Linked DNA regions of Homo sapiens. The protein of the gene in region 2 purifies or fractionates together with the protein of the main gene of each other region. This does not show direct contact. Each region holds a gene or a part of one and is shown on either strand. Other genes may lie near its edges.

Region 1 (15,129 bases), on a different chromosome or scaffold from region 2:
GTGGCTTCAGCCGGTCCCTCCATTTGGGGTCCCTGACTTCCCACAACAGGGGAGGGGGTACGGTTGGTCCAAAAGGGGAAGGACAGAAGCGGGGCCTGGGCCAGCAGCCCTGGGGCTCCCACCAGCCACCAGCAGCACTGAGTCTCCTCTGCAACTTTCCCTGTGGACAAAGGCAGTTTCCTGGGATGGTCTTTCCTTCCCGTTCCACCACTTTTATGGGTTTAAGAAAACCACTAACACAGGACAGCGGTGGATAATTCCCCTTTTCCCCGCGCTGACGTTTGGAGGCACCAGGGCTCCTCAAGGTGGACTGGGGGGCTCCTCTCCCTGAACGCAGGGTCCTGATGGGGGTGGGGGTGGGGGTGGGGGTGGAGGGCAGGCAGGTTCCAGAAACAGCCCTGCCCTCCCCTGCCTCCCGGGACAGCTTCCTCCACCAAGCCCACCTCATGCTCCATCCTCATCCCCTCTTAGCCAGGTCCTGCTGGAAGAGGAGGCTCGGGTCCACCCGCAGGAGTCAGAGAGGCCCTGCCAGGGACACTGCACATTCAAGGCCCTCTCCTCCATCCTTCTTCCTCTCCCTCCTCCCACCCTCTCCCTCCTCCCACCCCCTCTCCCCTCCTCCCATTCTCTCCCTCCTCCCACTCTCTCCCTTCTCCCACCCTCTCCCTTCCCACACCTGGAGACTCAGATCCCCCCAGGGCTGTGGACGACTGGCACAGTGGGGTAAGTCCTGCTCCCCACAGCTGCTTCTGGGATCCCAGACTGGGCCCAGAGTCCCCATCCACAGAAGGGCCGGCAGGCCTGAGAAAGGACAGCCAGGTCGCCAGGGAGGGGATGTGGCTCGCCCCCTTCTTCCCTTTCTCTGGAAGTGCATTTACCTCCCCCCACACACAGGCGGGGTTGCAGGGCCCTTCCCAGCCAGACCCTGCAGTGCAGCTCTCTGGGAGGCCCCCCAGGGCAGTGGTTTCCTGGCTCTGTGCTTCCTAGGATCCTGGAAGCCGACTGGGCTGGGGTTGGGGGGTGGAGCCCCATGGGAGAAGGATCTCCTGCAGGAATGGCCTGGATGGGGGCTTGGGGGTGGACATGTGCCAGAGACACCTGGGTAACTTCAGGAGAGAGGAGGGAGGGGGAGAGAGGAGGGAGGGGGAGAGAGGAGGGAGGGGGAGAGAGGAGGGAGGGGGAGAGAGGAGGGAGGGGGAGAGGGGGGGAGAGAGGAGGGAGGAGGAGAATAGGGGATGGGAGAGAGGAGGGAGACGGTGAAGGGGAGAGTAGGGAGCCGGAGAGGAGAATGAGGACAGGGGAGAAGAGGGAGGGGGAGATGAGGAAAGGGGGAGGGGAGCAAGTGTGAGAGGAGGGAGGGGGAAAGGAGGGAAGGGGGAGAGGAGGGGACAGGAGAGAGGAAGAAGGGGGAGAGGAGTGAGTGTGAGAGGAGGGAGGGGGAGAGAGGGGAAAAGGGGGAGAGGAGGGAGGGGGAGAGGAGGGAAGGGGGAGAGGAGTGAGCATGAGAGGAGGGAGGGGGAGAGAAGTGAGCGTGAGAGGAGGGAGGGGGAGAGGGGACAGGAGAGAGGAGGGAGGGAGACAGGAGTGAGCGTGAGAGGAGGGAGGGGGAGAGGAGTGAGCATGAGAGGAGGGAGGCGGAGAGGAGGGGACAGGAGAGAGGAGGGAGGGGGACAGGAGTGAGCGTGAGAGGAAGGAGGGGGAGAGGAGGGAAGAGGGAGAGGAGTGAGCATGAGAGGAGGGAGAGGGAGAGGACTGAGCGTGAGAGGAGGGAGGGGGAGAGAAGAGAAAAGAGGGAGCAAAGGGGACAGGAGAGAGGAGGGGGGGAGCGGAGGGAGCTCACCCGCTGTGGGTGGGGCAGGTTGTGGAAATCAGCCCCATGACAACAGTAAGCTCAGCCAGGACTGGGATTCAGGATGTTTTATTTTCATGCTTTATGTGGTTTTCATGTTCTCCCTGAGACATAAGCATCACTTACAATCAGAAAAGATCCCTGATGAAAGTGCATGAAGGAACACAAAGCAGGCGACTGCACGTCTATGAACACGCTCACGGTACGGTGCACAGAGCAGGCGACAGCACGTCTATAAACACACTTATAGCACGGTGGCCACGGTGGCTCACGCCTGTCATCCCAGCACTTTGGGAGGCCGAGGAGGGCGGATCACCTGAGGTCAGGAGTTTGAGACCAGCCTGGCTAACATGGCGAAACCCTACCTCTACTAAAAATACAAAAATTAGCTGGGCATGGTGGCATGTGCCTGTAGTTCCAGCTACTTGGGAGGCTGAGGCAGGAGAATCACTTGAACCCGGGAGGCGGAGGTTGCAGTGAGCCGAGATTGTGCCACTGCACTCCAGCCTGGGCGACAGAGCAAGACTCCATCTAAAAAAAAGAAAAACGCTTAAGCAGAAACACACTGAAGTATTAGCTCTGAATCCCACTCGGTAGTGAAACTAGATGTTGCTTTATGATTTTAAAAAATTCGCTATGATGAACATGTATCTTCTTCATAAGAGAAAGAGTCAAGTTTACTCTGAGTCATCATTGCAGATTTCCTGTGAAGCAGAGGCACCTCTGGGCCCCACCCAGGCCTGGGACCGCCCTGAGCCTGAGCCCCTCACACAGTGCGGCCCCAGCCCTGCCTCGGAGAAGCCCAGGCCAGGATGAAGCCTGGGACCGGGGGAGGAGTCGGACCGCGGCCCTGGAGCTCAGGATGCTGCAGCCTGGGGTGTCGGCGTTATTCCCACGCATCTCCACAGCTCCCGCCGCACCCACCCCGCGGACCTGCTGGCGGAGCCGGTGGTATACTGTGAACTGACTTATGAAACCACCTCTGCAAGGCAAAACAGGCCATTGGCCACTGGGCCCCGTGAACCTGTCCCTGGGCGTCCGCATCTCTTCCATCTTACAGACCGTGTGTCAGCCACCTGCTGCTGTGTGCCTGTGGTGGGACCCTCACTGCAGGGAATGCTGCATTCTTGGTGTTTGCTTACACAACGTGTTCCTATTTCCTTTCCCAAATCTGCAAGCACTCCTTGCAGATAAAACAGCTCAGACTGGGAGAGGCCAAGAGAACACGGAGGTCCTGAAGCCCCCTGTGCTTGAGTCAGGAGCCCAGAGGCTGGTGCCACAGCTCCAAGCAGGCAGCACCAAACCTCAGCACCCACAGCCACAGTGTGGATGACATCAGTGGCAGGTAAATTGACTGTACAGTAAGTGTACAAGGCCAGGCACGGTGGCTCATGCCTGTAATCCCAGCACTTTCGGAGGCCGAGGCAGGAGGACCACTTGAGTCCAGGAGTTCGAGACCAGCCTGGGCAACATCGTGAGACCCCCATCTCTACAAAACATACAAAATTAGCTGGGTATGGTGGCACATGCCTGTGATCCCAGCTACTCGGGAGGCTGAGGTGGAGGGATCACCTGAACCCAGGAGACTGAGGCTGCAGTGAGCTGTGATGAGGCCACTACGTTCCAGCCTGGATGACAGAGTGAGCCCCTTAGATAATAATAATAATAATAAGGAGGAGGAGGAGGAGGAGGAGGAGGAAAAGAAGGAGAAGTACTTTACAACTTCTGTAACGTAGGTGTGGGGAAAATATTGAAGGCAATCCAAAAACAGTCACTGTGGAGTTGTGGAATTAAGTATCAATTTTAAAGGTTTTTTCAAATGTTTCTTTAACATGGTTTTTGGTATGAACAATTTGTGTACGTTTTAAAATTATAAGACATTTAGGCTGGTGTTAGGCAAGTCTCAGCAGCTCCAGCTTTGGGAAAGCTCTTCTGGGACCTTCTGTGGGCCAGGGATGCATCTGGCCACATCTGGAGCCCACCCCCAGGTGATATCAGGGACAGCCCCTCTCTCCTCTCTCTGTCTCTCTTTCTGTCTCTCTGTCTCTGTCTCTCTGTCTCTGTCTCTCCGTCTCTGTCTGTCTCTCCTCTCTGTCTCTCTCTGTCTCTGTCTCTCTGTCTCTGTCTTTGTCTCTCTCTGTCTCTCCTCTCTCTGTGTCTCTGTCTCTGTCTCTCTCTCTGTCTCTCTCTGTCTGTCTCTCTGTCTCTCTCTGTCTCTGTCTCTCTCTGTCTGTCTCTGTCTCTCCTCTGTCTCTCTGTGTCTGTCTCTCTGTCTCTGTCTTTCTGTCTCTCTCTCACTGTCTCTGTCTCTCTCTGTCTCTCTGTCTCTGTGTCTCTCTGTCTCTGTCTCTCACTGTCTCTCTCTCTGTCTCTGTCTCTCTGTCTCTCTGTCTCTCTGTGTCTCTCTGTCTCTGTCTCTCTGTCTCTGTCTCTCCTCTGTCTCTCTGTGTCTCTCTCTGTCTTTCTGTCTCTCTGTCTCTCTCTGTCTCTGTCTCTCTCTCTGTCTCTGTCTCTCCTCTGTCTGTGTCTCTGTCTGTCTCTCTGTCTCTGTCTCTCTGTCTCTCTCTCACTGTCTCTCTCTGTCTCTCTGTCTCTGTCTCTCTGTCTCCACACACAGCATATATAACAACTATATTGTGAGCAACTTTGTCTTCCCACGGTACAAACTGAAATATCTTTGGCAAATACGTATCCGACTATACTGTGAAGAAATATTGACGTGAAAAAAGAACGCGGAGATCTGATAAAGCAACAATTCAGCTCACGGCGAGGTCCTCTGCAGGAGGCGGTTGGTGGGAAGAGGCGAGTGAGCCTGCCCGTGCGTCCCGCATGGAGACGTCTGGATTGGAAACTACCGAAAGATGTTTCAAGGAACTCTCCCTGGGTGACACGCTGGTTTTCAGACGTTTGATTCAGCTGCTGCAGTTTCCTCCTCCCTGACACGGGAACTGAACTGCAGGCCGCGGCGAGCCAGCCAGGGAAACCGCCTTCTCCCTGGGCTCGGAGCTGCTGCCGGTTCTGGAGGGAGAGACCCCAGCAAGGAGGTGGTGACTCATGGGCCGCTCCTCCCCGCCCCGCCCCGCCCCTCCCCTCCCGCCCCGCCCCTCCCCTCCCGCCCCTCCCCTCTCCTCCCGCCCCTCCCCTCCCCTCCCCTCTCCTCCCGCCCCGCCCCTCCCCTCCCCTCCCGCCCCTCCCCTCCCCTCCCGCCCCTCTCGCCCCGCCCCTCCCCTCCTTGCCCTCCGCTCTCACTCTGGCTGGGAGCAGAAGGCAGCCTCGGTCTCTGGGCGGCGGCGGCGGCCCACTCTGCCCTGGCCGCGCTGTGTGGTGACCGCAGGCCCCAGACATGAGGGCGGCCCGTGCTCTGCTGCCCCTGCTGCTGCAGGCCTGCTGGACAGCCGCGCAGGATGAGCCGGAGACCCCGAGGGCCGTGGCCTTCCAGGGTGAGTGGTGGCTTGGGGTGCAGGCTCCAGACCCCCCGCTCTTTGCTGCCGGCCAGGGCCAGATGCGCGGGGTCCCCTCCCACGCGTGGAACTGCAGACTGGGGGCCTGGAGCCCCTGAACCCCACTCCCCGCTCGGGGCGGCTGCAGCGCCCAGCTCTGCCCCACCGGGCCTTGGCCGGGGCCCCTAGAGGCTCAGCATTCAGCATTCTCAGCGGGGCCGGACCGCAGGCAGCTCGGGAGGGGCTCCCTGGCGAGGGGGAGCTGGTGCGGGGCTGTCTCGGCGCCCCGTGAATCCGTTTGACCCCTCACCTGGCAGTGAGTCCAGACGCACGGCCCCCCCGACCCCCGTTCTAGAAGAAGTCGTGCGCTGCTGGTTCTGAATCCAGCGAGAAACCTTCCCGTGAGGTCTCACTTGTCCGGTCCCGTGCCGGGGACGCCCTGCCCTTCGGGGGAGGTTGTGAAGGTTTCTGACTCCCCTCGAGGCACAGGAGCGGTTTGGGGTCTCTCACTCCACCCCCTCCCCACCGTCCCCACCGAGGGACGTCCTGCTGCCTTTTCCCGGGAGAGCCTCTCCGGGCCCGGGGCTCTGTGCTGCAGGCGCTGGGCTGGCCGGGAGGGCAGGCCCAGCAGAGACTCGGGGAATGGGGCGAGAGCTTGAAGGCCCCTCTCCTCCATCTTCGGCCAGACTGCCCCGTGGACCTGTTCTTTGTGCTGGACACCTCTGAGAGCGTGGCCCTGAGGCTGAAGCCCTACGGGGCCCTCGTGGACAAAGTCAAGTCCTTCACCAAGCGCTTCATCGACAACCTGAGGGACAGGTAGGAGGGACGCCCCGTGACCTTCCTCCTGTGCTTCTGGGCCTCTTGGAGGGAGGGGTGGGGGCCCAGGGGAACACGGGTGCGACGGCCTCAACCTCCTAAGGTTGGGCGAGCGTTGCCCTGACCGGGGCCCCTCCCGGCGCCCTCCAGAGTGAGGCCGGGGCCCTTTCCGGCGCCCTCCAGAGTGAGCTGGTCTGAGCCTCTCCCAGCGCCTTCCAGAGTGAGCTGGTTTGAGACCCTGCTCGCGGGGGTGGCACCTGTTCAGCAGGGCCGAGGTGACAGTGAGGCTGAGATGTAGGGAAGAGAGGCTCCCGCAGGCTGACCGAGAGGGCTCAGCGCACTGGCCCAGACACGCAGTCCTGCCTGGTGCGCGGGAGCCCCTCACTAACCACCTGGACCCTGGTTTGTTCCGTGGGCAGTGAGAGCCTCTACCTGGGTCCTGGATCCCACGTTCTGAAGGTCCCCGACTCGGGAGCCAGGAGGGGTGTCGCTCTGCAGCCCCAGGGCCCCCAGGCTTGGTTCTGGGCTTGGGACACGGCACCCTCTGCTCCACGTTCCTCCATCTGTGCGTGTGGCTGAGGACAGACCGGGGGGAGAGGGGAGTCGGTCCTGTGGGTGCACAGGGCCGCTGAGGGGGGGGCATGTAGAACGGGGCTCCCCCACTGAGACGGGTCCTGGCAGTGGGGACACAGCTTAGCCGGCGTAGGAACCCCCGTCCTCCTTGACCCTGCTGACTGGCCGCTGGGCCGGAGCCTCCCGCCACCAGAAGGGGCACAGTCAGAGGCTGCCGGTAACAGCAGGGTGGACCTTCCAGCCCACACCGTGCCCAGCAGGAGCCATTGGTACCAGGAACCCTGAGCTTAGTGGACATGGCCAGGCCCGTGCGGCAGTGTTTGGGGGGGGGTCTGGCTGTGGATGGCACCGGGGAGGGGCGGCCGCGTGGCCCAGCGTCCCCCGAGTCGCCCTTGTTGCCTTTACTCAGTCTCCCCATGACTCAGTTTCCCACCTGTGAAATGGGGCGGAGTCATCCCCATGTCGCTGCCACTGGATTCCTGCAGGCGCCGTGGTCACTCTGCTGAATGGATGGGAGGGTGGGTGGGGCAGAGGTGGGCCCACCCCAGGCTGGGGCAGAGCAGACCCCTGAGAGCCTCAGGCTCAGGTGCTCAGAGGGCAGCGAGGGGGCTGCTCAGATCCCCGGGGTGCCTCCTTCCCCCACTGTCATGCTGCCCCACTGCAGGCCCAAGGACCCCACCCCAGCAGGGCCACACACTCAGGGCTCCTGGTCTGAGGGCCTGAGGGATCGGGGCGCAGGTCGCTTGCTGGCCACACCCGCCTGCACAGCCTTCCAGGAGGGCCGGCCTCAGGGCCACAGGGCAAGTCCAGCTGTGTGTCAGCCACGGCCAGGGTGGGGCAGCCTGTCCATCTGGGTGACGTCGCGCCCTGGGACGGGTAGCGATGGCGCCAGGGGCCGCCCGCCTCACGCCCGCCGTGCCTGTTCCTGGCAGGTACTACCGCTGTGACCGAAACCTGGTGTGGAACGCAGGCGCGCTGCACTACAGTGACGAGGTGGAGATCATCCAAGGCCTCACGCGCATGCCTGGCGGCCGCGACGCACTCAAAAGCAGCGTGGACGCGGTCAAGTACTTTGGGAAGGGCACCTACACCGACTGCGCTATCAAGAAGGGGCTGGAGCAGCTCCTCGTGGGGTGAGTGGCCCCCAGCCTCCTGCCCACGCCAGTTCTCACGCGTGGTACCCAGCCTGGGCTGGGGTTGGCCTGGGGTCCCTGTGCGGCTTCAGCTGCAGCCTCCCTGTTCTCTTGGAGGCTGCACGGCCTCCCTGACCCACTTTGTGGGCAGGAAAGAGACGGAGACAGACAGAGACAGAGAGAAACAGAAACAGGGAGAAACAGACACAGAGAGAGACAGAGACAGAGAGAGATAGAGACAGAGACAGAGAGAGACAGAGACAAAGAGTGACAGAGGGACCAAGACAGGCAGACAGAGACAAACAGAGACAGAGACAGAGACACAGAGAGAGACACAGAGAGACAGAGACGGGAACAGAGACAGGCAGACAGAGACAGAGAGAGACAGAGACAGAAACAGAGACAGAGGGACAGAGACAGGCAGAGAGAGACAGAGAGACAGAGACAGAGACAGACAAACAGAGACAGAGAGACAGAAACAGGGACAGAGACAGAAAGAGAGAGAGACAGAGGGAAACAGAGAGAGACAGAGACAGATAGAAAAAGACAGAGGCAGAGAGAAGCAGAGACAGAGAAACAAAGACAGTCAGAGACAGACAGAGACAGAGACAGAAACAGAGACAGAGAGACAGAGACAGAGGGGCAGAGACAGGCAGACAGAGAGACAGAGACAGAGACAGCGAAACAGAGACAGAAACATACAGAGACAGAGAGACAGAGAGAAGCAGAGACAGACAGAGGCAGAGAGACAGAGAGAAGCAGAGACAGGGACAGAGACAGAGACAGAAATAGAGAGATAGAGACAGAGGGACAGAGACAGAGAGATAGAGACAGAGAGGGAGACAGAGAGATAGAAGCAGAGAGAGAGAGACAAAGACAGAGGCAGAGAGACAGAGAGAGAAGCACAGACAGAGACAGACAGAGAGACAGGGACAGACAGAGACAGAGAGACCGGAAACAGAGGCAGAGAGACTGAGAGACTGAGAGAGACGGGGTGGTTTTCCCCACAGCATCAACACCAAGCAGGGCTAGGATCACTGAAACAGACTCATCAGACCCGAAGCATGCGCTTTCTCGGGGTTTTTCTGGACTGAGGGGTTTCCTCTCATCCCAGTGTCCAGCTGTGGGGACGCAGGGGCCGCAAGCCCCGGAGTGTCCAGAGGGGAACGTGGCCTCCCCACACCCAGCCCTTCACGAGGCCTCAGGATCCCAGTGGGGGTACCCGAGGCTGCCCTGTCCAGCCAGGCGGTGCGGGGGGTTTGGGGAGAGCCTCTCCCCGAGGTCGGTCTCAGAGGGCCACATGGCCGGTGTGGGCCGGACATTCCCTTTCCAATGGTTGTGCCCACTTCCCTCCAGAGTTGGTGCCAAGCTGGGACCTGGGGGACTTGGAGTCTCAGGAAGTCGTCCGCTGTCTGCAGGGGGTGCATGGGGGATGTGGCCACACACGTCAGAGTGCGGCCCCCTGTGGAAGCCACAGACAGACACGACTCCCCTAAATGAGCTCGCCCTTCTGGCCGAGATGCTCAGCGTCCCCAGCAGGCTGCCCGACTGCCCTGCGATACTGCCCTCCTTCCTGCTGCTCCCACTTTCCCTTTCGGGGGGTTGGATTTGGGGCATTCAGGGATCGCCCTGTTGTTTGCTCATCACACCCATTTCCTGCAAGAGCCACGGTGACCGAGCAGCCTTGAGTTGAGGCAGCTTGTGGGTAGACGCGGCGGGCATCTCGGAGGGGCACGCTCCCTGCCACCCTCAGCCTCCACTCACTGGTCAGGGGCTTTGCGCCCCAGGGCACCCCAGGAACCGAGCCTCCTTTGGGGTCATGGGTGCCTCTCCTGGGAGGGCGTGGATTTTCCAAAGCAGTTTAGAGAAATGAGACCCACAGGCGTTATTTCCCATGGTGAGGTTCTTTTCAGTAACCCCCACCGTATAGCCAGGATCAGCAAAGAGAGGCGGCTCCTCCCGGTGAGACAGGGACCAGCACCTCCCGGACAGGCTTGGGTCTCCCTCCAGTTCCCCCACCTAGTCTCGAGGTCTCACGCTGCCCTCTCCTGTCCAGGGGCTCCCACCTGAAGGAGAATAAGTACCTGATTGTGGTGACCGACGGGCACCCCCTGGAGGGCTACAAGGAACCCTGTGGGGGGCTGGAGGATGCTGTGAACGAGGCCAAGCACCTGGGCGTCAAAGTCTTCTCGGTGGCCATCACACCCGACCACCTGGTAGGCACCGGCCCCCCCCGGCAGATGCCCCCAACCACAGGGAGTGGCGGCTGCAAGGCCCCCGGCAGCTGGGACCGTCTTTTGGTCCTCGGGAGGGTGTGGGTTCTCCAGCCGGCCACCCTTGCCCCTGAGAGGCCAGCCCCTCCTGCTGAGGAGCCTGGAGCGCCCCAGCCCAGCCTCCCCTCTGGCCCTGTGGGAAGCGGCCCCGGCCGTCAGGGGTCCCAGCCCTGCTCAGCCCACCCTGAACACTGCCCCCAGGAGCCGCGTCTGAGCATCATCGCCACGGACCACACGTACCGGCGCAACTTCACGGCGGCTGACTGGGGCCAGAGCCGCGACGCAGAGGAGGCCATCAGCCAGACCATCGACACCATCGTGGACATGATCGTGAGGCCCCTGCCCAGGAGACGGGGAGGCCCGCGGCGGCCGCAGGTGGAAAGTAATTCTGCGTTTCCATTTCTCTTTCCAGAAAAATAACGTGGAGCAAGTGGTAAGAGCCCTCCCCACCACCCCCAGCCGTGAGTCTGCACACGTCCACCCACACGTCCACCTGTGTGTTCAGGACGCATGTCCCTATGCATATCCGCCCATGTGCCCGGGACACATGTCCCCTGCGTGTCTGCCCGTGTGCCCGGGATGTGTGTCCCCCTGCGTGTCCACCTGTGTGTCTGCCCATGTGCCTGGGACATGTGTCCGCCTGTGCGTCCATCCGTGTGTCCGTCTGCCCATGTGCCTGGGTCGCATGTCACCCTGTGTCCCAGCCGTATGTCCGTGGCTTTCCCACTGACTCGTCTCCATGCTTTCCCCCCACAGTGCTGCTCCTTCGAATGCCAGGTGAGTGTGCCCCCCGACCCCTGACCCCGCGCCCTGCACCCTGGGAACCTGAGTCTGGGGTCCTGGCTGACCGTCCCCTCTGCCTTGCAGCCTGCAAGAGGACCTCCGGGGCTCCGGGGCGACCCCGGCTTTGAGGTGAGTGGTGACTCCTGCTCCTCCCATGTGTTGTGGGGCCTGGGAGTGGGGGTGGCAGGACCAAAGCCTCCTGGGCACCCAAGTCCACCATGAGGATCCAGAGGGGACGGCGGGGGTCCAGATGGAGGGGACGGCGGGGGTCCAGATGGAGGGGACGGCGGGAGTCCAGATGGAGGGGATGGCGGGGTCCAGATGGAGGGGACGGCGGGGTCCAGATGGAGGGGACGGCGGGGTCCAGATGGAGGGGATGGCGGGGTCCAGATGGAGGGGACGGCGGGGTCCAGATGGAGGGGACGGCGGGGTCCAGATGGAGGGGACGTCGGGGCTCCAGATGGAGGGGACGGCGGGAGTCCAGATGGAGGGGACGGCGGGGTCCAGATGGAGGGGACGGCGGGGTCCAGATGGAGGGGACGGCGGGGTCCAGATGGAGGGGACGTCGGGGCTCCAGATGGAGGGGACGGCGGGAGTCCAGATGGAGGGGACGGCGTGGTCCAGATGGAGGGGACGGCGGGGTCCAGATGGAGGGGACGTCGGGGCTCCAGATGGAGGGGACGGCGGGGGTCCAGATGGAGGGGACGGCGGGGTCCAGATGGAGGGGACGGCGGGGTCCAGATGGAGGGGACGGCGGGGTCCAGATGGAGGGGACGGCGGGGTCCAGATGGAGGGGACGGCGGGGTCCAGATGGAGGGGACGGCGGGAGTCCAGATGGAGGGGACGGCGTGGTCCAGATGGAGGGGACGGCGGGGTCCAGATGGAGGGGACGTCGGGGCTCCAGATGGAGGGGACGGCGGGGTCCAGATGGAGGGGATGTCGGGGTCCAGATGGAAGGGACGGCGGGGTCCAGCAGGCAGGCTCCGGCCGTGCAGGGTGTGGACTGTCCCGGGGGCGCTGGGGGCTTCTGAGGGTGTCTCTGTCCGCCCTGCCCTCAGCCGCACTCTGTTCAGAAGGACCTTTCTGGAGGTAGGAGGGTGAGAATGTGGGTCCCCTGCTTCTGTGTGGCTCACATAGGATGACCTTAAACGTTAGAATTAGCTGCTGATAATTAAAACTTGCCATGAGGCTGCTCATGGACCTCAGATTTCTGGCTTCTCCTAAAAACCATCAAACCCAGCAGCTGTGGGCCCGAGTCCCATGGCCATTTCCTGGGGGTCGAGCTGTGACCCTGGGGGGCTTCTGTGCTGCACGTCCCTCCCACCTGTGCCTGGGGGTCAGCAAAGCCGAGCAGACAGGAACGAAGGCAGGGAGTGGGGGGAGCTGGCGTGCGGGTTGGAGCTCCCAGACCCAGGCTGACCAGATGTGATGGGGAAGGTGCTTTAAAGCCCTTGATCCCTGAAGGCTGGATGAAGCGTCTTTTTAAAAACCTGTTTCGTGAGCCAGCTTTTTAGAAAGAAACGGGGCTGCCCCAACCTTGACCTGTTTTGTGTTCCAGGGAGAACGAGGCAAGCCGGGGCTCCCAGGAGAGAAGGGAGAAGCCGGAGATCCTGTGAGTGCCTGACTGTGGGGTGGGGGCCCTAAGAAGCTGGAGGCGGGGAACGACTAGGCCTCGGAAACTTCCGGAAGAGTGGCTGGGTTCTGAGTGCCAAAGTCACACTGCCTGTTCCTTGTGGGTGGGAGCAGACCTGGAGGGGCCACAGCCCAGCCATCCTTCCACACAGCCCCCCAGGCAGCCCGTAAGCCCCCCTGCCAGGGAGGGGCTGGGTGGGGAGGTGGCCCAGGGTGCTCAGGCCGGCACCGTCCGGGGCCCCTGCCGTGGCTCCTTGGCCCAAATCCTATCCATAGACTTCCCTCCCCCAGCTCCACCTTGGAGGGCCTCGGCACCATGGGCCCCGTGCAGCAGGGCCCCTCTCTCGGCCTGACCAGGCCTGGGCTGGAGGGAGGGGTGTGGGGCTGGGTGGGACTGGCCCCTGCCCCTGCTCCTCCGGGGGTGTCTCACCATCTCCTCCTGTGTTCCAGGGAAGACCCGGGGACCTCGGACCTGTTGGGTACCAGGGAATGAAGGTACGTGCCCCCCCTTTCCTGGCCCGAGCCCGGTGGTGCCCTCAGCCTTGCACAGCACTAACAAGCCTTCCTCTTCCTCTTCTTCCGCTGGGTGTGTAGGGAGAAAAAGGGAGCCGTGGGGAGAAGGTGAGTGAGGCTCGACCTCGGAGCTGGTCTCTCCAGGCGCAGATGTGCCATCCTGGACGAGGGTGTCCCCGGGGATGAGGACAGTGTCCCTGACAGGAGACCACGTGTCCTGCAGACCCGCTCCACCGCCCCTCGCCGTCCCCTCCATCTGGAAGGACAAGGACAGCCACCCAGGCACCCAGCAAAGGCGCCTGTGTCACTTTCACCCCACCCCAGAGCAGGGGTCCCCCGGGCGGTTACCCTCTGCGGAGCCGGGGGTCCCCCGGGCGGTTACCCTCTGCGGAGCCGGGGGTCCCCCGGGCGGTTACCCTCTGCAGAGCGGCCCCTCCCCATCACTGTCAGTCCCCATGATTCTCAGCAGTGATGTTGTCCCCTCGGGTTGGGGGCACCCAAGCCCCTGCCTCGCGTGGGCCTAAGCCAGGCTTGCCCTGCCCTCCCCACCCCAAATACCCCCTCACACCCGCTTCCTGTCTCCGCAGGGCTCCAGGGGACCCAAGGGCTACAAGGTGAGCGTGGGCTGCTGGGAGGGGGGAGTTCTGCCCCCACGGCAGCATGTCTGACCTGCATCTGACTCCTGCCTTCGTTTTCCCGCCTCACAGGGAGAGAAGGGCAAGCGTGGCATCGACGGGGTGGACGGCGTGAAGGTGACTGGGGGGAGATAGGATGGACGGGGAGGGACGAGGAGGAATGGGGCGAGATGGGGAGGGACGGAGTGGACGGCGTGAAGGTGACCCGGGGAGGGATGGGGTGGACAGTGTGAAGGTGACCAGGGGAAGGACGGGGAGGGACGGGGAGGGATGGGGTGAGGTGATCCCGGCAGGAGGGACAGGGAGGAGTGGGGTGGACGGTGTGAAGGTGACCCCAGGGGGGTGTCTGCTAGGCAGGGCTTTCCAGGGAGGGTGTGGAGGGCATGGAGGGCACCAAGTCTGACAGTTGATTGGCCTCAGTTTACCCACTTGGCCGTCAGATTTTCTAGTTTTCTTCCTCTTTCCAGGGGGAGATGGGGTACCCAGGCCTGCCAGGCTGCAAGGGCTCGCCCGGGTTTGACGTAAGTCACTTCCTCTCACTGATACTTTAAAACTAGCGCTGTCAGCAGCACCTCGTGTGGACCGTTTTGACTTCTGTCTGGGCGGTCTGGGGCTGCTGCCAGAGGCCGCGGTGGCCTCTGCCGGTGGTGTCATGCTGCCCTCTTTTCTCCAGGGCATTCAAGGACCCCCTGGCCCCAAGGGAGACCCCGGTGCCTTTGGACTGAAAGGAGAAAAGGTGAGTGACTTGCGGCCCCTGGAGGACCAGGGCCTTCACGGTTGGCCAAGCGCTGAATTGGAAACCTCTCCTGGAAGCAAGTCCTGGTCCGAGCATGTCGGCCACCCGTGCGGCCTCAGAGGGGAGGAGCTGGTGGAGGCTGGAGGCAGGCAGAGGAGCAGCGGGGACAGTGCCCACCGTGGGGACAGTGGCCGTGGCGCTCCCGCCCAGAGCCTTCCCTGCAGCCCGAGGGCCTTCAGGCCTCCGCCATTCTGTCCCCCGCACCTGCCGCTCGCTCGGCACAGATGGGACCCCACCGCGTCACTCCTAGCCTGCGAGCCGCAGCCCAGAATGGCTCTCAGAACTGAGAATGGGCTGGGTGGCACTGAGGGTGGCGAGTGGGCGGGAGGGTGGTGAGCGGGGGCGGGAGGAGGGTGGTGAGCGGGTGGGAGGGCGAGTGGGCAGCGGGAGGGCGGGAGCACGAGGCGGGAGAAGGAGCTTTTTCGTCTGACAGCTGAGTCTGCCGTTGCTGGTGTTTTCTCTGGAGTTTCTTTGTTGAAGCTGAAGTGTTGGGGAAGACAAAGGCGAATGCTGACCCCACCCCAAACATTCCCAGACGAGCTCCTAGAACCCAGCAGACGGTTTCCAAATCTCATCTTCAAGTTCCCAGATTACCCTCCAGGCCCTAGATTTGAGTTTGCCAATTTGCCAGCCTGGCAAAGCTGTGCCTTCTCTAATGGGAACCAAATCCTGCCCCTTAGACAAGA
Region 2 (15,183 bases):
CAAAACACCACAGAGGTATGTCCCGCCTAGTGAGCGGGGGTCTTCAGGCGAGGAGCCGAGGGACATCGGTCAGTGTGCGAAGGCAGAGGTGAGGGGCAGAGTCATGGGCCCTGTCGAGCCTCCTGGATCAGCTCTGAGGTAGGGAGTTTGCACTTGGTCTTTGGTCAGATCATTAGCTAAAGAGGGTACTCCGGAATGGTTAAGAGCCTGTGAGGCCATTAGTCTGGCATTCAATGCTGGTTCTCTTTTTGAGCCTCAGTTTGCTGTTTTGTAAAGTAGGGATCATAAATGGTTTCTACTGCATGAAAGTTGGATGAAATAAGCCAAGTATGTAAAGCACTTAGTGTATAATATTCTCTCAATAAACATTGGCTGCTGCAACTGTTCTACTACTACCAGCTGTATACGGAGCCTTCCTGGATCCTACTCAGGGACTCTATAGAATCTCCTAACTGGATGGGCATTAGGGACACTACTCCAGCCCTCTGCTCAGTAAAGGGATTCCCTGATTTTTTGAACCATATTTCTGGGGCCATTCCCAGGCTGTGGGTGGGAAGAGAAGTTCTGTGAGCAGAGCCTGGTTGCTGCTCTCATCTCTCCCACCCTGGGGCCCTGGCCAGACCTTGACAGTCTACGTGGCAAAGGTTTTCCGAGTAACTCTTATAATCGTTGCACCAGTAGTGGCTGTTGATCTGGAAGAGGCCATAGTCAAAGCTTCCGTCTGCATTTTCATTTATCTTTGATATGTTGAACTTGCTTTCCACAAAAGCCAGGCACAGCCCTTAGAGTAGGGAGAAGAAGGTCAGGATTTAGAGGGGACCAAGCTGAGTGAGAAGGGAGATGGAGGAGAAAGGGAGGCAAGGTTTCAGACAAAAGGAACAAGGCCTGGGAGGCAAGATAGGACTAGAGGGCTTGAAATCTCCATTGACTTGCCCTCTTATCCTGTGGTCCATCCACCCACTCATAAGTACAATTACTCATCTGTCCATCTATTCATGTGTTTTGCACTTACTGAGCACCTACTGTGTGCCAGGAACTGTGCAAAGCCTAGTGAGGGACATTTCAGTTGGGTCAAACACAGATGCTGCCTTCAAGGGGCCTGTATTACAAGCTTAAAAATATGTACCTAAGCTTGTAATACAGGCCTTGTAATAAGCTTGTATGTACAAGCTTAAAAATATGTACAAGCTTAAAAATATGTATGCCGGGCGCGGTGGCTTATGCCTGTAATCCCAGCACTTTGGGAGGCTGAGGCGGGCGGATCACGAGGTCAGGAGATCGAGACCATCCTGGCTAACACGGTGAAACCCTGTCTCTACTAAAAATACAAAAATTAGCTGGGCATGGTGGTGGGTGCCTGTAGTTCCAGCTACTGGGGAGGCTGAGGCAGGAGAATGGTGTGAACCCAGGAGGCAGAGCTTGCAGTGAGCCAAGATCGCGCCACTACACTCCAGCCTGGGTGACAGAGCGAGACTCTGTCTAAAAAAAAAAAAAAAAGGTACCTAAAAAACCCACAAAGCAAGATTAAAGGACAAAAGTGTTGCAAGACAGGTGCACACAACTCCTGGGCAAAAGGGAGATATCCCTTCCATGCAGGAGGAGAAAGCCTTTGTACTAGCTGTCCCCTCTGCCTAGAGTGTTCTTCCCCCAGACATTTGGGTGACCAGGTCCTTCATTTAATTCAGTGCTGCTTAATGTCATCTCCTCAGAGAGGCCTTCCCTGACTTCCCCATCTAAAGAATTCACCATTGCTCCCCCTGCTTTATTCTTCTTCATAGCATTGGTCACCACCAGGCAGTACGTTATGAGTGTGTTTGTTGCTGCTCTCTTCCCCTAGGATGTGAACATTATAAGGGAAGGGAATTTGTTTATCTCTACAGCCCCAGTGCCTAAAACAGTTGTTGGTACATAATAAGTGCTCAGACAATAACTTGAGTGAATACAGCGTGTTGGGAAAGGCTTTTTTGAAGGGGGCTGCTTTTTGAACTTGGCTTTGAAAGATGAACAGGAGAGAAAGAAGCTGGCCATATAGGACATGACTAGCAGAGGAGAAATGGCTGGGGAGGGGCGGATGGTACTCACAGTCACTCAGGGAGTAACCCTCAAACCCATCCAAGTCCTCCAGCTGCAGCACCTGGGCCAAGTCACAGCGACTGATGAGGCTGGCCTGATTTAGGGCAAGAAAGCTGCTGACCAAATAGATGAGTAGCGCCTTTGTCATCCTTGGAGGGGAGGAGGTGCAGCTGAGGGCTGATGGTTCTTAGGGTCTTGCAGACTTTCTGCTGATCTTCTCTGAGAGCCTGGGGAATCTGGAGAGGGCAGCCAGGTTTCCTTACTCACTCACTGCTCCAACCTGGCTGTTTCCAATCTCTTTTCTCTTGTTTATTATTTTATAGATTTTTATTTATCATGGAAAATTAAACCTTTAAAAAAGGAAAGAGAATAGTATCATGAACCTCCATATACCCACTTCTGAGCTTCAACATTCAAAAACCAAGGCCAATCTTTCTTTGTTGTTGTTTGTTTTTTATTTTTTTATTTTTTAGAGATGGGGGTCTCACTCTGTTGACCAGGCTGGTCTTGAACTCCTGGCCTCAAGTGATCCTCCCATCTCAGCCTCCCAAAGTGCTGGGATTACAGGTGTGAGCCACCACACCTGGCCAATCTCATTTCATCCATAGGTCCTCTTATATGGGCACCCAGCTATGGGTAGTATTTGGGTATTGGGATGGGGAGTGAGGTTGGCAAAGGAGATTACTGAAGACTATCTTCACCAGCATATGTGTGTGTGTATCTGAGCATGTGCTTTTAGAAAGAGGGCCAGGACACTGGGTGCTAATCTCCCCACAACCCCACTCCCCCAGACACATGACACATGATTTTTCCCAAGGGCATACCCTGCCTGGTACAATTCTTGGTGGGCTGGCTGTAGACGTAACCTTCACTTTCACATTGTGTATGTGTGTGTGCGCGTGTGTGTGTGTTGAATAGCAAGGGCCCTAGATTCACACTGCCTGCTTTCAAATCCTGGGGTGCTATGTGACTTTGGGCAACATACTCAACCTTTCTGGGCCTCATTTGTAAAATGAAGATATGCTAATACCTACCTAAAAGGGTTGTTTTGATGATTAAATGAAATAATGCCCAGATCTTGGTTCACATTCCACACAAAAGGGAACCAGGACTCTAGGAAATATGGCTGATTCCCAGGCTGGAGCAGGAAAGGGTTATGAGATGTCTGGATTATCTTGCTGTACAAGAAATTTAAAAAGTGCTCGAAATATGTATTGGGGCATGTCAAATGGACACAAGAGCTAGCTCAAAGGGGCACCGACTGGCCAGATCTGAAACGATGTTTTTTGGTAACAGCATTATTGAGATATAATTCATGTATCATACAATTAATTCAGTTAAAGTGTACAATTCAGTGGTTTTCAGTATGTTTGCAGAGTTGTACAACTACTACCTCACTTGATTTTAGAATATTTTCATCAATCCAAAACAAAACCCTGCACCCATTTAGCAGTCACTGCCCATCCCCCACCTCCCAACCCCTGGCAACCACTAATCTACTTTCTGTCTCTATGGATTTGCCTCTTCTGGACATTTCATACACACGGAGTTACAGAAAATATGGCATTTTGTATCTGGCTTCTTTCACTTAGCATAATGTTTTGAAGTTTCATTCAGGTTGGAGCATGTAATGATACTTCATTCCTTTCTATGGTTGAATAATATTTCATTGTATGAATACACCATACTTCGTCTATCCATTCATTAGTTGATGGACATTTGGGTTGTTTCTATTTTTGGCTATCATGAATAATCCTACTATGAACATTAACATACTAGTTTTTGTGTGGATATATGTTTTTATTTCTTTGGAGTAGAGTTGCTGGGTCATGGGGTAACCCTAGGCTTAAGCTTATGAGGCCTACCAGATTTCCAAAGTGGCTGCACCATTTTGCATTCCCATCAGCAGTGTATGAAGGTTCCAATTTCTCTACATCCTCACCAACACTTGTTATTATCTGTCTTCTTGACAAAAGGTATCCTAGTGGGTATGAACTGGTATCACCCTGTTGTTTTAATTTGCGTTTCCCAGATGGCTACGGATGTTGATCATCTTTTTATGTGCTTATTGGCCACTGTATATCTTTGGGAAAATGTCTATTCAGAACCTTTGGCCAGTTTCAAATTGAGTTGTCTTTTTATTACTGAGTGGGAAGAGTTCTTTATATATTCTGTATACTAGACCAGCATCAGATATATGGCAGATATTTTTTTCCCATTCTGTGGGTTGCCTTTCACTTTCTTGGTGGTGTTCTTTGAAGCCCCAAAGTTTTTAATTTTGATGATGTGCAAGTTATCTATTTGTCCTTTTGTTGGGTGTGCTTTTGGTGTCATATCTAAGAAACCATTGCATAATGGTTTCCAACCCAATCTGGGACAATTAGACCATCAGAATAAATGACAGTAACAGATTATACATTAAATGCAATAGGAATCCATGAGCCCATAATAATAATAAATTGACAAAAAGATACATTGTGTGGAGCTGAAGCAGAGACCTCTTCCTGACAATAAAAGGCCAACCGATAAGTGTGGAGGAAGTCATGGAGTTGAAAAATAATCACCATTTTGCAACTATCATAGATTGGTTTGAGAACAAATCATCATTGCATGCTAAATCTGAGGTGGTGGGAAGAATGCTGAAGAACTGGATATATCATGATCTTATAGGGTCTCCCCACAGATTGCTTATTAGTTGCACAGAAAGAAAAAACAAAACAGTATACAGTGGATAACCAGACAGTATTTTGACCTTGCAATCAAAATTAACATCTCCAAAGACGGACAGAGGGACATTGTGTGCCTCCAGATGTGATTCCCAAGGAGGACACATCGCTTATGCAATATTCCGTCCAGGGATGCATAGGCTATGTCTAATCCTGAGGAAACATCAAAGCCAAACTCACTGAAAATCTGTAAGATAACTGGCCTGTATTCTTCAAAATGGCCAATGCCATGAAAACTGAAAGACTGGCCAGGCATGGTGGCTCATGCCTGTAATCCGAGCACTTTGGGAGGCTGAGGTGAGAGAATTGCTTAGGCCAGGAGTTTGAGACCAACCTGGGAAACAGCAAGACCTCATCTCTACACTAAAAAGAAATAATACTTCCAATAAATCTGAAAACCTGGGACTATTTCTGTCACTGAGGGAAGGTGTGTTTTTCCCCTTAACTTAGGTATATGCTGCTGAGGGGGCAGAAGCCTGAGTTCTTCCACCCGCCGCCTTCAAGTGTCAGGCGGCTTCTGCTTGGACAAGATGGCTACCCTGGTGGGCTTGTTTCTTCTCTGGTCTTGTTATAGGAGGCAGAAAGAAACTACTTAGGTAGACAGTTAGGGTAAAGTGAATCCCCAGCAGAAAACTTTCCTTTTAACGCAAAGCAGCTCAAAGATAGCTCCCTTTCTAACCTCACGCAGTTCAAGGAAATCACTTTTCTTCTAACAACAACCAGCCTGAAAGAGCAAAGGGTAAAAACAGATAAGAGCTCAGGCACAGAAGGATGGGGGAAGTCTCCTGGGTAATCACCAAACTTCACACTTATACAATGGGCCCCAGTAAAACAGTGGGCCTTAATAACTACATTCCTTTCTCTTTAGGCGCGCTAAGATAGGGAAGCTAAAAGCAGAATCGATGGGTATGCCTACAGCTGCAAGATGTGTGGGAATAGACACAGAAACTCTCGCTCCCAGATAAGCAAGACAAAGAGACACAGACTAAAAGTTGATGTGGTCGGGAATGGGGTGAGAGCCTATTAAAAACTCTGCTCTATACAGATAGCACACCTGGTCCCAACTGAACCATCGGGCTCTAGGAGGATAAGACATCCCCTCCTCATGAATGCCCCTCTCTAGCCCATTTATAAAACCCTGACGTTTTTACTACCACCTGGCAACCTGCCTGGGACCTCTGTCTGTGACAGAGAGCTGTTCTTTCCTTTTGCCTATTAAACTCCTGCTCCAAACTCACTCTGTGTGCGTGTGTGTCTGCGACCTCGATCTCCTTAAACGTGAGACCACGAACCTTGGTATTTACTTCAGACAATGAGGCTGCTTCTGTCTCTTGTTCTATCTGAGACTCGTTCCACACCAGCCTGAGCTTCGGGCCATTCTTTTGCTTCTCCCATCATTCTACCCCCAGAGCTGACAGATTTGGCAAATAAAATTTACAAGATGCCCTGTTAAATTAGAATTTCAGACAAACAACCTACTCCACACTGACTCAGGAGGGTCCCTCAGAGATAGATGTCACTGAGCCTCGGGAAGCAGGAAGCTCCATCCCTGCCCATTAAGCCCCCTCTCAGGGTCCCCTCAAGGAAGACAGTGGCTCCAGAAGGTATGTTCCCACCCCTTCCACAGCTTACCTCTCTCCCATCCCTCTCTGACCCTGGGTTCCACCTGGCCCAGAGATTTCTGGGAGGATCTGTAGAACAAGGCTGTCTACAGTAGGAGCCTCTTCTTCCTCACCACATACACTTCAGCCCTGCCCAACTAACAGCTCTCCATGTTCTAAAGAAGGCTTCTGGAACCCCAGTTCTGTGACGTCATCCATCTCCTGGAAATACACTGGTTTTAACCAGGCAAATTGGCCAAGCATCAGGCAGAAGTAGCAGCTGGGCCTGGGAGGACAGGTGACATCTGTGAGGAAAATGGCCGGGTGGGATAGGGTGGAGAGCACTGGCTGTTTCCTTCATTTTTGGGAACAGCACCACCTTTGGGGGGACTCCTTCCCTCATGGGGTTTTAGTGGGGGCTGCCAGTCCTGGGGTCCTGCCCCCCACCACCCCCCATAAGCATAGGAATGCTTGTGTGCCAGTCACTATATTTGTAAACGGAAGCTGGTGGAGCTGCTCAGCTTCCAACAGGAAGCCCATGTGTGCAGGGCCAGAGGACATAGCCCATCTAAGGTGCTAAGCCTCCGTGAAGAGGGAGCGGAGTCTGGACGGGATTCCAGCCCCAGGGTCCACCCTTTCTGGGACCCAAACACACCCTTCCCCTCCCTTCAATTCTGAGATTCAATAAATGTCCCCACTCACAGAACAAGTTTGAGTTGGGTTTCTGTCACTTGCAGCCAAAAGAGCCAGTTGTAGTCGGCATGGGGTCAACCATCTGTGATATGGTGACCTGACACCCTGTCCCCTCCCTGTGAAGGCCACAACATCCCAACATCATTAGTCACCGAGGAAGTCTGGGAGAAATTTCTACCAACTGTAGCAAAAAAGAGGCAAGGGAGAAAACATCTTGTTACTGACGGCCCACTCTTCCCTCTGAAACAGGGAGGCAGGATCTGACAGAAAAATAGGACAAGGGGCTTCTGAGTGGGCAGTGCTGCCCCGTGCCCCTCCAGACTTCTCTTCCCAGCAGGGCAGCAGTGCATGGCACCCTGGGATAGAAGGCCTGCAGGGGCAGAGGGGAGGCTGAACATGCTGGGGGCACCACTTTATGAGAAACCATTTGTGGCCAAAAATCTACATGGGCTTCAGATGACCTGAATGAACTCGTCTCTGTAGAGTGAGAGTCCTGGGCAGGAGGAAAGGTTTCCATAGCCAAGGACCACATGCTTGGAAATTTGATCTCTGAAACTTAAGATCTGAGAGAGGATGGTCTCCCAAGGAAGTCACATGAGCCTCAGTTTAATCCTGTTGGTTTGCAGAAGTTTCCACTCCCTCTGGAGGCTGGGTTGGGACCTCCTGCTGGGCTGCAGAATATTTAGTCTCTTTGATAGGCTCTGAAGTTATGGTCATTCAAAGGGGGTCCAGAGGGACCCTCCACCTCCAGCCCCCTAGCTGTGGCAAACATGGGTAGATTCCTACCCATTCAAACAACTGGAAAACCCAAGCTGGGACCCATGAGTCAAGTCAGCTCAGGGCAAGAGGACAGATGGATACCATAGGCCATCTGTCTCAATATTTGCAAGTTATAAATTAAACTAACAGACTGTTAAAGTATGTCCTACCCTCATACTCTGACAAATATTCCTTTAAAAGGATAAAATTTTAAAATGTGTATGAAGCTATGATTTGTATTTTTTTTTTTTTAGAGATGGAGTCTCACTCTGGAGTGATCTCGGCTCACTGCAACCTCTGCCTCCTGGGTTCAAGCAATTCTGCCTCAGCCTCCCGAGTAGCTGGGACTACAGGTGCATGCCACCATGCCTGGCTAATTTTTTTTTGTATTTTAGTAGCGACAGGGTTTCACCTTGTTGCCCAGGCTGGTCTTGAGCTCCTGAGCTCAGGCAATCTGCCTGCCTCGGCCTCCCAAAGTGCTAGGATTACAGGCGTGAGCCACCACGCCCGGCCGATTATGTTATGTTATGTATGTTAAAGTATGTCCTATCCTCATCCTCTGACAAATATGCCTTTAAAAGGATAAAATTTTAAAATATATATGAAGCTATGATTTGTATATGACAGAAAGTTAGCAAAATGTCAAAGATCATGAAATTTCATGTTTATTGCGCATGTCTGGGTGCTCTGTTGATGGGCTGACAATATTGGGATGAGTAATAAAGATGTGGAATTTATAAATTACTGAAACTATTCCATGAAATGTATTTTTCTTATCTTTCAGCAAAATCGGTAATTATGTTATTATTATCAAGATTTGAAAATACATGTAAGGATTAAAACAATCATATTCAAAGTACAAATATCTTAATATTTTCATCAAAATTATGTTTATGTAAAAAATTTAATTTTATCAGGAATATTTTCCCAAAAGTTAGTTTTCTTTTCAACTATTGAAAAGTATCCATTAAACCAAAAGGCAACATACAAATTAGAATTAGTCAAATTTTTACGTCAAAATGATTGAAATAAATCCATTTTATTTTGATTTTTGAAAACTTGATTAATTTTTATTAATTTTAAATTCATAATTCTAGCATTCAGTGACCACCAATGTAAAGAACAGGCATCATGGTTTGTCTGAGGGCTAGACATAGATACAAATTTTAGAGTAATGTGTAATGTGATTTGTTTAACCCTTTTTCTGTTTGCCCAGAGAATACTCACTGGTGGCACCTGCAGCTGCAGTGTTTACCCCAAGATAACTTTGCCATGAAATATTTAACACAAAGGGTAAATGCTTGAGGGGATGGATACCCCATTCTCCATGATGTCTTTATTATGTATTGTATGCCTGTATCAAAACATCTCAGGTGCCCCATAAATATATACACTTACTATGTACCCACAAAAACTACAACTAAAATTTTAAAAAGTAATGAACTATTGCCACACAAAACAACATGGATAAAACTCAAAATAATTATACTGAGTGAAAGAAGCTTGACAAAAAAGAGTACACACTGTATGATTCCATTTCTAGAAAGCACTAGAAAATATAAACTAACCTATGATGATAGAAAGCAGATCAGGGCAGGGTACAGTGGCTCACACCTGTAATCCCAGCACTTTAGGAGGCTGAGGTGGGCGAATCACTTGAGGTGAGGAGTTCGAGACCAGCCTGGTCAACAAAGTGAAACCCTGTCTCTACTAAAAATATAAAAATTAGCCAGGCCTGTTGGCACGCACCTGTAATCCCAGCTACTCGGGAGGCTGAGGCACAAAAATCACTCGAACCCAGGAGGTGGAGGTTGCAGTGAGCCAAGATCATGCCACTGCACTCCAGCCTGGGAGACAGAGCAAGACTCCATCTTAAAAAAATAAATAAATAAAATAAAAACGAAAGAAAAGAAAAAAAGAGAGCAGATCAGTAGTTGCTTGGGGGTGGGGAGGTAGAAAGAGCAGGAAGCAGGATCACCAAGGGCAACAAGGAAACTTTTTGTGGGAACGGATATCTTCACTATCTTGATTGTGATAATGATTTCAGGTGTATACCAAGGGTCAGATGTTACCAAATTGTAATCTCTATATATGCACAGTTTATTATATGTCAATACCTCAATACATCTGCCTAAAATGTTTAAAAATTACTGTAATTATACAAAATATATTTTATGAAAAGGAAGTTATGGGTGGGCATGGTTGAGAACCACAGCATCAGATAGATTCAGAAGTGGGGGAAAAGCATCTCCCACTTCCCCTTCTTCAGGCCAGCGTGCTGTGCAATTTATCCAGTGGACACTAGAGGACAGCAGCGACTCAGGTAGAGGAAGTGGGCGTTTCAGGGCTTGAATGCTTAGAATTCTCTGCTCTGTGCTCCCTATCCTGGGCGGTGGGCGGTGGGCGTTAATACCCCCATAATACTCAGTTACCGCTGGGACTTGGGCCCTGGTCTGTGGCTCTTGATTCCACCTTGTTGGTCCCCCAACACCAGGAGAGCTCTCTGTGCTCCCAGATTTTTTTTTTTTTTTTTTTTTGAGATGGAGTTTCGCTCTTGTTCCCTAGGCTGGAGTGCATTGGCGCGATCTCGGCTCACCGCAACTTTCGCCCCCGGGTTCAAGCGATTCTCCTGCCTCAGCCTCCTGAGTAGCTGGGATTACAGGCATGCACCACCACGCCTGGTTAATTTTGTGTTTTTAGTAGAGACGGGGTTTCTCCATGTAGGTCAGGCTGGTCTCGAACTCCCGACCTCAGGTGATCCACCCACCTCGGCCTCCCGAAGTGCTGGGATTACAGGCGTGAGCCATGGCGCCTGGCACTCCCATTTCTTTTTAAAAGGATATCCTGACTCCAGTGAGACAGCAGCCATAGTTCCCTGTCTGTTATCTGCAGGGCTGATATGGAGGATTGCAGATGTCACCAAAGAGTTGTGGTTCTCAGGCTGGGCACAGTGGCTCACGCCTGTAATCCCAACACTTGGGGAGACCCAGGCCGGTGGATCACATGAGGTCAGGAGTTCGAGATCAGCCTGGCCAACATGGCAAAACCCATCTCTCCTAAGAATACAAAAAATTAGCTGGGCCTGGTGGCACACGCCTGTAGTCCCAGCTACTCAGGAGGCTGAGGCAGGAGATTTGCTTGAGCCCAGGAGGTGAAGGTTGCAGTGAGCTGAGATTGCACCGCTGCACTCCAGCCTGGGCAACAAGAGTGAGACTTGGTTTCAAAAAAAAAAAAAAAAAAAGTTGTGGTTCTCAAGGGCCTTTGGAAGGCCTCCCAGCTTGCCTGAAATCCACGATTATAAAGCCCGTCAAAGTTGCATCATCAGACGCTGCAACATCACAGGTTAGCATGTCCCTGAGAAAACGACACACTGAAAGGTAATTTTTATAAGAAATAGGGAAAAGAGAGAAGGTTCAATTGAGGGGTAGGAAAATATGATGGTGGAGCCCCCTTACGGTGCTGCAATAGAAGCTTCCCCCCAAAAAGCAATAGTGGTCTGGGCGCTGTGGCTCAGTCCTGTAATCCAGCACTTTGGGAGGCTGAGGCGGGTGGATCACTTGAGCTCAGGAGTTCGAGACCAGCCTGACCAACATGGCAAAACCCCGTCCCTACTGAAAATACAAAAATTAGCTGGGTGTGGTGGTGTGTGCCTGTAATCCCAGCTACTCGGGAGGCTGAGGCAGGAGAATCACTTAAACCTGGGAGGCAGAGGTTGCAGTGGGCCCAGATCATGCCACTGCACTCCAGCCTGGGTGACAGATAGAAACTCCATCTCAAAGAAAAAAAAAAAAAGAAAGAAAGAAAAAGAAAAAAAAGCAAATTGTGAGCATACATTGAGCCATCCCAGTGTGTGAGGCATGATGCGGAACACTCTATGCAGGCAGTCATCTCATCTTCACAGCACTCTTACTAAATAAACTGCAGAGAGGTGGCGGGGTGCAGTGGCTCACGCCTGTAGTCCCAGCACTTTGGGAGGCCGAGGCGAGTGGATCATGAGGTCAGGAGATCGAGACCATCCTGGCTAACACGGTGAAACCCCGTCTCTACTAAAAATACAAAAAATTAGCCGGGCGTGGTAGCGGGCGCCTGTAGTCCCAGCTACTCCTGAGGCTGAGGCAGGAGAATGGCGTGAACCCAGGAGACGGAGCTTGCAGTGAGCCAAGATCACGCCACTGCACTCCAGCCTGGGAGACAGAGCGAGACTCGTCTCAAAAACAAAACAAAACAAAATAAACCACAGAGAGGTTAAAAAATGCCTAAAGGTCCAGGCGCAGCTCACATCTGTAATCCCAACACTTTGGGAGGCCAAGGTGGGTGGATCACTTGAGCCCAGGAATTCAAGACCAGCCTGCGCAACATGGCGAGGCCCCATCTCTACAAAAAATTACAAAAATTAGCCAGGTGTGGTGGCCTGTAGTCGCAGCTACTCCTGAGGTTGAGGGAAGAGGATCCCTTGAGCCTGGGAGTTTGAGGCTGCAGTGAGCTATGATTGCACTACAGCCTGGGTGTGAGAGTAACACAGTCTCAAAAAAAAAAAAAAAAGAAAAGAAAAAGAAAAGCAGTTGTGGACACACATTGAGCCCTCCCAGTGGGTGAGGCACAATGCCAAACACTGTATGAAGGAAATAATCTCATCTTCACAGCATTCTTACTGAATAAGCTGCAGAGAAGTTAAGAAACGCCCAAAGTCACAGAGCTGATAGGAGGCAGTGCAGGATTTGAATCCAGATTTGACACTAACGTATGGATCTAGCTACTGCTCTGCAGTACCCACTTAAAGGGAAGTGTTTTTCTTTCTTGGTTATTTAGTTCATGTGTTAAACTGGTTGGTGTTGGTAGCAGATGGTGAGTATTATAGTTCAGCCTTCTGGAGAAAGCTTGTCAGGCTTCAAGAGAATGTTAAGCATCTATGATGGTCCTAGAGGGAGGTTCCCCTCTCCACCCCTTCACTGCTTTACATGGAGCACTTATAGTGTGTGAGGTTCTGTGTTAAGGATGATACTTTCATAATGACGGTATCTGAAAGGCAGGTGGGCAGAGGCCAGCAACAAGGAATTGAAGGGTCAGTGATGTAGCAATCCAGTGACATTGTTCATTTGCACACACATGGGTCTGTCACATGCAGCCCAACTCACCTGGAGTCCTGAGAAGGTAACCAGACCAGGATGGAGGCCCAGGGAACTCACCAGAAGTTCTCAAGCATCAGAACACGGTGAAAGCATCCTGGTAGGCAGATAACACATGCCCACGGTTTGTGAGAGAAAGTCCTCCAGCAGTTTCTCTCCTTCCCCTTGGCTTTGACCTGGCATACCTGGGATCAGGCAGTTGATTCTCCAGGCCAGGTGCCTCAGGGAGGTGACCCTTCCTGTTCTGGGTTCTGCAGAAGCCAACAGCTCTGGGCTTGTGCCCATCAAGCACTCTTCTGCCCATTTTACTCTCTCGTGGATGCATGGTGGTGTTGATACAGGCCCTGAGTTAAAGGCTCCATGGCCGCCCATGACAGGAGGACAAAGCAAAAGAAAGCCAGAGTTAAACAGGCCCCTTGGGTCCCCTCCTTCACTTCATAGATGGGAAAACCAAGGTCTGGGCAGGGAAAGGGATTCAGCCAAGGCCACAGCGCACTGATGGCCACGCCAGGGTTAGGATTCCCAGCACAGTCTGTTTCTCTCATACTCCGCAGCCTTCTCTAATAATAGATTTTGGGTTGGGTTCTTCTTTATCAAGCGCTGGTCACACATTATCTCTATCTTTCTTAAAACAATTGTTCTTTAATATCATTATATATTCAGTCAGTGTTCAAATTTTCAACTGTTTTATGTCAAAAAGCCTTTTCTAAAGTTGATTAAATCAGGATTGAAATAAGATGCACACATTATGATTAGTCGATGTCTTTTAAATCTTTTAATCCATGGATTCCTCTTTCCTCTTTCTCTTTTTCCTTTTATTCTTGAATAAGCCACATCATGCCTAAACACCTGAAATCCTTCTCATTAAAGAGAAAAAAAAACACCACAGGAAACGTTACTACATATATAAAGATGAAGATAGGAATTGCTTGTGAGTGAAGCAATGAAGTCTGAGCACAATGTGGAAACTGGAAATCAGAGGTTGCATTTTAAAAATCTCCACTCTCTTCTTTAGATAGATTGGTGATTATTTTACCTATTTCATTTTAACTATCTTAAACACAACGTAAGGAACCTAAAGAGAAAACTTGTCAGCAATTGATCTGTCCTTTCAATGAACAGTGAATGCCACGGCGTATGTCTACCTGGGTACAAATCTCCTTTGCTAATAAGCAAACAGTGAACCTCTAAATCAATGTAAACTTTCATCATGTTTCACTTCAGTTGATTCCACACGTTGAGGCTAAGCACAGCTGAGCAAATCAGCTGTAAAATCCTAAAGTAAGAAGATATCATTTTAAAGATAAAAATTGTGATATTTAGGCCAGGCACGGTGGCTCATGCCTGTAATCCCAGCACTTGGGAGGCAGAGACGGGCGGATCACGAGGTCAGGAGATCAAGACCATCCTGGCTAACATGGTGAAACCCCATCGTCTCTACTAGAAATACAAAAAAAAAAAAAAAAAATTAGCCGGGCGTAGTGGCGGGCACCTGTAGTCCCAGCTACTAGGGAGGCTGAGCCAGGAGAATGGCGTGAACCCGGGAGGCGGAGTTTGCAGTGAGCCGAGATCATGCCACTGCACTCCAGCCTGGGTGACAGAGCAAGACTCCATCTCAAAAAAAAAAAAAATTGTGATATTTAGACAAAGCATTCTTTTACTGATTTCATTTAAAAAACCATCTGTGCTCTTGGCTGAACGTTGTGTGAATTTGATCCTGTCATCACAATGCTAGCTGATTATTTTACACACTAGTTGATGCAGTTTCTTCATAGTGTCACTAGTCTTTATATTTTGGTGTATTTTTGCAGTGGCTGGTACTGGTTTTTCCTTTCCGTATTTGGTGCTTCATTCAGGAGCTCCTGCAAGGCAGGCCTGGTGGTGATGAAATCCCTTAGCATTTGCTTGTCTGGAAAGGATTTTATTTCTCCTCTGCTTCTGAAGCTTAGTTGGGATGGATATGAAAATCTGGGTGGAAAATTCTTTTCTTTAAGAATTTCTTTCTTTTTTTTTTTTTTTTTGAGGTGGAGTCTCACTCTGTCACCCAGGCTGGAGTGCAGTGGCGCCATGTTGGCTCACTGCAACGTCTGTCTCCTGGGTTCAAGCAATTCTCATGTTTCAGCCTCCAAGTAGCTGGGACTACAGGCACAAGTCACCATGCCTGGCTAGTTTTTGTATTTTTAGTAGAGACGGGGTTTCACCATG

The links.
Region 1: the proteins of LYZL6 (region 2) and COL6A1 purify together in Homo sapiens (co-immunoprecipitation; 2 studies listed by BioGRID and IntAct, with this or other methods). This does not show direct contact.

What each region holds. Positions count from the first base shown.
Region 1 is NC_000021.9:45,976,659-45,991,787, forward strand, and holds the start of COL6A1 (collagen alpha-1(VI) chain precursor), read left to right. Parts: upstream 1-5,111; 5' UTR 5,112-5,192; coding exon 5,193-5,289; intron 5,290-5,975; coding exon 5,976-6,105; intron 6,106-7,610; coding exon 7,611-7,811; intron 7,812-9,867; coding exon 9,868-10,027; intron 10,028-10,285; coding exon 10,286-10,414; intron 10,415-10,496; coding exon 10,497-10,517; intron 10,518-10,840; coding exon 10,841-10,861; intron 10,862-10,951; coding exon 10,952-10,996; intron 10,997-12,425; coding exon 12,426-12,479; intron 12,480-12,949; coding exon 12,950-12,994; intron 12,995-13,093; coding exon 13,094-13,120; intron 13,121-13,599; coding exon 13,600-13,626; intron 13,627-13,719; coding exon 13,720-13,764; intron 13,765-14,114; coding exon 14,115-14,168; intron 14,169-14,320; coding exon 14,321-14,383; intron 14,384-15,129. UniProt on the Homo sapiens protein: Collagen VI acts as a cell-binding protein.
Region 2 is NC_000017.11:35,937,136-35,952,318, forward strand, and holds the start of LYZL6 (lysozyme-like protein 6 precursor), read right to left. Parts: upstream 6,579-15,183; 5' UTR 6,432-6,578; intron 2,424-6,431; 5' UTR 2,222-2,423; coding exon 2,083-2,221; intron 782-2,082; coding exon 623-781; intron 1-622. UniProt on the Homo sapiens protein: May be involved sperm-egg plasma membrane adhesion and fusion during fertilization. Exhibits bacteriolytic activity in vitro against Micrococcus luteus and Staphylococcus aureus.